Homo sapiens: one gene and its partner. The gene in region 1 interacts genetically with each later gene. Each region holds a gene or a part of one and is shown on either strand. Other genes may lie near its edges.

What was found.
Region 2: changes in GTPBP4 (region 1) and RPP30 together harm fitness more than expected from each alone (negative genetic interaction), as found in Homo sapiens cells (one large-scale study listed by BioGRID).

Annotation. Positions count from the first base shown.
Region 1 is NC_000010.11:1,001,919-1,005,733, forward strand, and holds part of GTPBP4 (GTP-binding protein 4), read left to right. Parts: intron 1-3,815. UniProt on the Homo sapiens protein: Involved in the biogenesis of the 60S ribosomal subunit. Acts as a TP53 repressor, preventing TP53 stabilization and cell cycle arrest.
Region 2 is NC_000010.11:90,885,339-90,889,153, forward strand, and holds part of RPP30 (ribonuclease P protein subunit p30), read left to right. Parts: intron 1-473; coding exon 474-563; intron 564-3,815. UniProt on the Homo sapiens protein: Component of ribonuclease P, a ribonucleoprotein complex that generates mature tRNA molecules by cleaving their 5'-ends. Also a component of the MRP ribonuclease complex, which cleaves pre-rRNA sequences.

The DNA of each region.
Region 1 (3,815 bases):
TATTTTATTTTTGTTTTTTTTTTGAGATGGAGTCTCGCTCTGTCACTGAGGCTGGAGTGCAGTGGCACGGTCTCGGCTCAGTGCAGCCTCCACCTCTGAGGTTCAAGTGATTCTCCTGCCTCAGCCTCCTGAGTAGCTGGGATTACAGGCGTGCGCCACCACACCGAGCTAATTTTTTGTATTTTTAGTAGAGAGGGTTTTACCATACCGGCCAGGCTGGTCTTGAATTTATGACCTCAAGTGATCCGCCCACCTTGGCCTCCCAGAGTGTTGGGATTATAGGCGTGAGCCACTGCGCCTGGCCTACAGTGCACTTTAAATCCAGTATTTGTTGATTCTTTTTTGCCTAGGATCTGTCTAATGTTGCGAGTCTGATGTTGATGTCCCCAAATATTATTGACCCCTTTTATTATTATATAATGACCTTCTTGTCTCTTTTTATTGTTTTTGACTTAAAATCTGCTTTATCTGATAGAAGTATAGCTATTCCTACTTGCTTTTAGTTTCCATCTGCGTAGAATATCTTTTTGCATCTCTTCATTTTCAGTCTATGTGTGTCTTAATGTCTTTACAGGTTAAGTGAATTTCTTGGATACTTTTTCATGTTTTCATGATAGTGATTATTGTCTTCGCTTCCAGATGTAGGACTTTCTTAAGTATATCTTGTAAGGCTGGTCTAGTAGTGACGAATTCTCTGTTTTTGCTTTTCTCGGAAAGAATTTATTTCTCCCTTATTTCTGAAGGATAGCTTTGCTGGATGTAATATAGTTGGCTGGCAGTCTTCTTTTTTTTCTTCAACACTTTGAATATATATCATCCCATTGTCTCCTGGCGTGCAAGGTTTCTGCAAAGAAATCTGCTGTTAGTCTAATGGGGATTTTCTTATATGTGACTTCAAGCTTTTCTCTAGCTGTTTTTAGAATTTCCTTTATATTTGACTTTTGACAGTTTGACTATAATGTGCCTTGGGGAAGACCTTTCTGGGCTGACTCTATTTGGGAATTCTTGAACTTCCTGGTTTTAGATGTCTATACCTCTCCCCAGTCTTGGAAAGTTTTCAGCTATCTCATTAAATAGGTTACTAAGCCTTTTCCCTTCTCTTCTCCTTCTTGAACTCCCATAATGCCAGCATGTATTCACTTAATGTTGTCCCATAAATCTTATAGGCTTCCTTCATTCTTTTTCGTTCTTCCTGCTTTTTTTCTCTCTGACTAGGTAGTTTCAAATGACAGAGATTTTTTTTCTGCTTCATCCAGTGTGCTGTTAAAACTGTCTATTGTATTATCTCATCCATTGAATTCTTCAGCTACAGGATTTCTGTTTGACTCTTTTTTACAATTTCTGTCTCAGTTTAAGTTCTTGTTCATATCATGAAATTGTTTTCTTGATTTTGTTGAATTATCTATCTGTATTTTGTTTCTCATTGAGTTTCCTTCAAAAAAATTATTATTTTGAATTCTCTTTCTGGCAATTCATTGATTTCCTTTTCATTAGAGTCTGTTCCTAGAGAGTTAATATTCCTTTCATGATTTCTTATTTCCTTGCTTTTTCATGTTTCTTGTGTCCCTGCATTGATGTCTCTGCATCTGGTAGAACAGGAGCCTCTTTTATACTTTCTTCTAGAGTGGCTTTCATGGAGAGGTTTTCACCTCACTTGGGTTTTACTGTGCCATTTGGGAAGAGAACCGTGACTTTCTGGATAGGAGCAGTGACATTGTTTCTGTGCAGCTTCCTCACCTCCATGAAATGTTGGCAATAACTGGGTGGCTCAGTGGCCTCAGCTCTGGAAGTTTGTGCCAGCGGTGGTGTATGTTTTTAAGGTCCTTGGTGTCAGGGGCTTTTGGGGTCCTGCTATTCTTGTTTTTCCCGCAATGGGGGACTTATCTGAGGGGATCTTTCTTGGTGTCAGGTCTGACATGGTCTGCAAGCAGCTGCCACAGTGCTGGGTTTCAGCTACAGGTACTCAGGGTAGCTGTGGGACTGGGGTCCTAGCCTTAGGGTCTTGTGTGCCTATCATGGCCTGGCCTTGGGGTGCAGGTTTACTCTCTGTGGTGGATCTCTGATCCTGAAGCACCCCTAGCAGCTTAAGCCCACAGGGCAAGGCTGTGGCTGTGGCTCCACCCGTGGGGTCAGGGCACAGTCCTGGCCTGACTCCAGGGAAGACGCACTCTGGAGGTTTGAGCCTGGGAAGCAGGGTAGAGCTGTACTTCAGAAACCTGAGCCAGTAGGGAGGGCTTAGTGTCAGCTCAAGGGGAACTCTGGACCCTGGGATGGTGGGGCCCAGCAGTATCCCAGACTCTCTGATGCTAGGTGAGGTGGCAGCAAGGACCCCAGAATGGACTAGTCCAGCTGTCATTTGGGCCCTAGAGGACAGGGAGGAGGACAGCAGTGACTCCATTTCCTGGAAAGAGTGGTGACTCTGCAGCTCAGAATATAGGGTTAGTCCAGCTCCAGGGAGCAGGTGCTGGAGCTGTTTGCGTGGTGGGGCAGGTGCCTCGGCTCAGCCCCTGCCCTGTTTCCCTGGGGTGTGGAGTACAATGTCAGCTCCTCCCCATGGTATGTGGCTGGTCAGCCTGGGCCTGAGGGTTGTGACTCTTCTGGGCGCCCCAGGCACCGTTGCCCTGGGATACAAGGTACCTCTTCAGCATAGACGCTGGGATATGTGACCATTCTGGGCATTTCCCAGGAAGCAGGGCACTGCTTCAGCTCAGGCAGCAGGGAGACAACGTTCCCTGAGAGGCCACGGTGCTATTTACCAGGAGGCAGGGTACCGTTGGGTGCTAGAGCAAGGGCTAGTAGAGGGGCTCCACCTCCACCAAGCCCTGCTGGGAAGGGGTAGCAGCTGCTCACAGCTGGCTTGGGGATGTTGGGCCACCAGGTTTGGGTAGTTTGGAGGCAGTTTAGCCTCAGGGATGAAGGGGAGCTGTGGCCACTTCCCCTGAGCAAGACATACTCCAGCCGCAGTTCCAGTCCCAAGATGATGGAGTATAGCCGCCCCATGGGCCCAACAGACAGGGCCCAGTGTCAGCTCCTTCTGTGTGGGAGCACAGCTGTGAGGATGCCAGGGGGCTCCGGTGGTGAGGGCTGTGGGTGTCCAGAGTGGTGGCAGGGCTGCTGCCATCCTCTTGCTTACCCCCTCACCGTAGGGAGAACCTCCTCCTGGGTCCCGTTGCATCCCAGCTGTAGGGTGGGTTGCTGGCGGCCCAGTGTGTTTTTTTTGGTTTGTTTGTTTGTTTGTTTGTTTTAAGACGGAGTCTCGCTCTGTCCCCCAGGCTGGAGTGCAGTGGCGTGATCTCTGCTCAATGCAAGCTCCACCTCCCAGGTTCACACCATTCTCCTGCCTCAGCCTCCCGAGTAGCTGGGACTACAGGCGGCCGCCACCACGCCTGGCTAATTTTTTATATTTTTAGCAGAGACAGGGTTTCACCATGTTAGCCAGGGTGACCTTGACCTCCTGACCTCATGATCCACCCGCCTCGGCCTCCCAAAGGCTGGGATTACAGGCATGAGCCACCGCGCCTGGCCCCTGGTGTTTTCTTTGGGCTGTATTTCATCGTCTTGCGTTTTTCTGCTCCCCAGGGTGCCTGTTACTCCTGTGATGCCCTCTGGAGCTCCCCCTCAGTTATTAACATGTAGTTGTTCGTTATTCTGATTGCCTTTGTTGTGGGGGACAGATGTGAGGGGCTACTAGTCGGCCATCTTTTTGATGTCATTTGTGTTTTCTTGATCATAGAAGAATATGAAGAAAATAACTGTTTTTAGGATATGTCTGTTTTTTAAGACTTTGAAACAACCACAGATGTTCACATTTGCAG
Region 2 (3,815 bases), about 90 Mb from region 1:
ACTTGATAGGAGCCACAGCCCTGGGACAATTCTTGGCACAGAGTTGCTCAATAAATAGTGTGTGGGATAAATGGACTATGCATACATTCCATTTGGCTTATTTTTTCCTTGGGTTTTAGAATAGTCAGTTTCTTCTTTCTGGGACAGTCTGAAGTAACCTTCCAGAAACTGAGCCTCGCTCTGCAACCCATCCTTATGTAGAAGACCATATGAGTTAGAGAGTCTCCAGGCCCTATCTTTTGAGAAAGTCTGTGGACATATTCCGCTTTTGCTGGATTACAGTTAAACCATTTAAACCAAACCTAAAAGAGTAGCAAAACAGTTGACTTTGTAAAAGGTCAGATGTATTTCAACACAGAACCATCAAAACACCTATGGAGTGAACCATACTTTATATCGAGTTTGACCCTATCTCCCATTCTTACTTGTGCCAATTTTCCTTTTGGCCTTACCTATTTTTTTCTTCTTTACAGATTGCTTGCACACATTTAGATGTGGATTTAGTCTGCATAACTGTAACAGAGAAACTACCATTTTACTTCAAAAGACCTCCTATTAATGTGGTAAGTGTACTTTCCATTCTGTATTTGAATCTTAGAAACTTACATTAGCAAATTGGAAAAGAAGCAGAAGAAATCAGTGTTCTTAGAAGGAAAAACAAAGGCTAGGGAATAGGAGGCAGTTTTAGAAAAGAGAATTTTCGTTTTGAAAGCTGAACAAAGGGAGAAAGAAAGCTTAAAATTAAAAATATCCAGTTAATTATTAAGATGTTTTTAAAAGGCCATAGAACCCAAAATTTATAAAGGATATTTCTTAAGAGGATAGCTAATAATCATGGGTACTTATAACCTGAACATCAATTATTAAGGGAACAGAGCAGTCAAAAAAGAAGAGGAAGGGAAAAAATAAAAAGCAGAGGATCCTTGAGGCACCAGGAAGCTAAAGAGAGTCAAGAGGGAACAGGGCATGGCATCACATAGACGTGGTCTATGCAAAATTAAAATCTGTGTTGAAGCATGCTTATTCACAAAGAGCCCAGAGTTACTTTTATATGAACCTAATAGGATGGCCATGTGTTCAGAAAACTTTTTTGTTTCTCCCTCTGCTATAGAATTTTTCTCATTCCCCTTCTACATAGTTTTCTCTTGTTTTCCCATACCCTTCATCTTCTATCTGTCCATTCCTTCTTCTGTCTTAATTTCCTCCCATTTCCATCATAAGGTAATATTATTTCACACCAGTAACTATTTTAGTAGCAAAAGGTCAGCACAGCTGTTAACTATTTGCTTTGCCAGTCAGATCCTAGGAGGAGTTCAGATGCTATTTTAGAGTAGTGGCTTCCAAAACCCTAGTCTCCTGTTCTCAAAAACTGGTATCCAAGGAGAAAAAAAAGAGTTTAGCAAATACAGTCAAAATTACATATCCAATCCTGTCAGAATCAGAAGATTAATTTTTTTTAAGTTTTTCAAAGGATAATTCCCTTGCTCTTTTGCCTCTGTAGAATCATAACTTTCTCAATTTTAATTCTCTTTGGTGCTAAGGAATTGGCTTGAGAATTAGAGGGAGACAGTAAGAGGAGAAAATGGAAAATTAGTATGTGAAAATTCAGTGTGGCAAAAATTATTAGTAGTAGTAGTAGTAGTAGTAGAGACAGGGTGTCACTCTATTGCCCAAGCTAGAGTGCAGTGGCATGATCATAGCTCACTGCAGCCTCAACTTCCTGGGATCAAGTGATCCTCCTACCTCAGCCTCCTGAGCAATTGGGACTACAGGTGCATGCCACCACACCTGGCTAATTTTTTTATGTTTTGTAAAGTTGAGGTCTCACCATGTTTCCCAGGCTGGTCTCAAACTCCTGGGCTCAAGCAATCCTCCCACCTCAGCCTCCCAAAGTGCTCAGCTTACAGGCATGAGCCACCATGCCTGACCCACCCAATGGGGAAAAGTTTAAGTTAGCTTATGTTCTACCCCTAAAAATATGCTACTCAAACTAAAAATATATCATCATATATTTCAAGGGAAAAACATAAAAGCTCTTGTTGGGTAAATTTTTTTTTTTTTTTTGAGACGGAGTCTTGCTGTCACCCAGGCTGGAGTACAGTGGCACGATCTCGGCTCACTTCCACCTCCACCTCCCTGGTTCAAGCAATTCTCCTGCCCCAGCCTCCTGAGTAGCTGGGATTACAGGTGCACACCACCATGTCCGGCTAATTTTTGTATTTCTTTTTAGTAGAGATGGGGTTTTACCATGTTGGCCAGGCTGGTCTCAAATTCCTGACCTTGTGATCCGCCCGCCTCAGCCTCGCCAAATGCTGGGATTACAGGCGTGAGCCACCACACCCGGCCTAGGGTAAATATTGACAGTACTAGTGAACATAACAATATTGGCTGAGCTCAAATCATTGGTTCCTTGTGTTATTGCCAGTACTTATAAATAAATAAGTAAACAGTGAAAAACCACTGAATCACCACATTTTCGAGTTGGAAATCTATGTTGTGCAACAGTTCATTTGTCAAATGTGGGGAAATGAAAAACTACAAGAAGTCATTCAGTTCTGTAGTCACACAGGGTTAGGAAAGTTCTGATTGGTTGTCTGTCAAGATCTCTGATGTGCCCCAGGTACCTATGATAAAAGCCACAAATTAATACAGTACTCAAGGTTATGGCAGTCTTGTTGGCCTCACATATTGTTTCTCTCCAGAGGTAGCAATCTCTGTCTTTAGAAGTTTGCCTAACCTTTTTACCAGCCTCAAACTGCCAATACAGTTTCTGTGGAAGTAGCACCCCCAGAGTTGGGCACTATAGCTACTCAGCAAATTGCTAGTGAACTTGCAACTTTTTCACCTTTTTCTTCATCTTAATGAACTAGGAAGGTCATTTTCTAGATGGCTTTGCCTGAATAAGCCCACATACGATACTGTGACCTTTGATGGGAGGAGCTAGCATGTGATGTTAAGGCCAAGTCCATGGAATGGACAGCAATGCACAACAGATAATTCCTCATGTCTCACGACAGTGGTAAGATTCCCAGTGGCTGCTTTGGTGAGAGCTTTTAATTGGGGTTCTTAGGAACTTGTATTATTATTTAAACCAGAGTGTGAGCTCCTAGAGAACACCGGCTGTCATGGTCCTTTTTTAAGTACTCCACTATCTTGCGTATAATGAGTCCTCCTTACAGTTTGTTGAGTCAATAAGTACATGTTGAACTTAGCATATCAGGGTACAGCATAGGGGACCTGGCCAAATTCTGCTCGTTGTTAGTCACCAGCTGGATGTCCACATTCATCAGGAAGTATATGCCGTGAGGGAAGTGGGGCAGTGGGGCAACATGAGGAGGACAGTGGCACTCAAGACAGTTGACACCAGGACACCCCACCCCCTGATTCCATTGGGAAGTTCAGGAAAGCTCCTTTCGTTTGATGGGCATTTTTCGCTTAATTCCTACATTTTTCAATTTAAGAATTCTGAAAAGTAAAAAATTCTGTCAAGTGAGAGGGATATGCAGTTTAACATGGTGTCTGCTTTAAAAAAAATCTGGTGTGAACATTTTGCATATGTTGTTTAATAAAAACTAGATGATGGAGTGGAAAGAAAGGCTGCACAAGATTATTTTTAGTCTTCATCTAGTAGAAGAGTAGGCTGCACTGTGAATTGGTCAGGAAGCAGAAGAGTCCCTGTTAATTTATTCACCTATTTTTTATTAAAGAGAGAAAGTTGGAAACATACAGGTGTCTAGCTTGTTGTTCAGAGTAAATAATAGTTGTGGCATAGGTATGTATGTATTATTTGTAACATAATATCCAGTCTGGCTGTG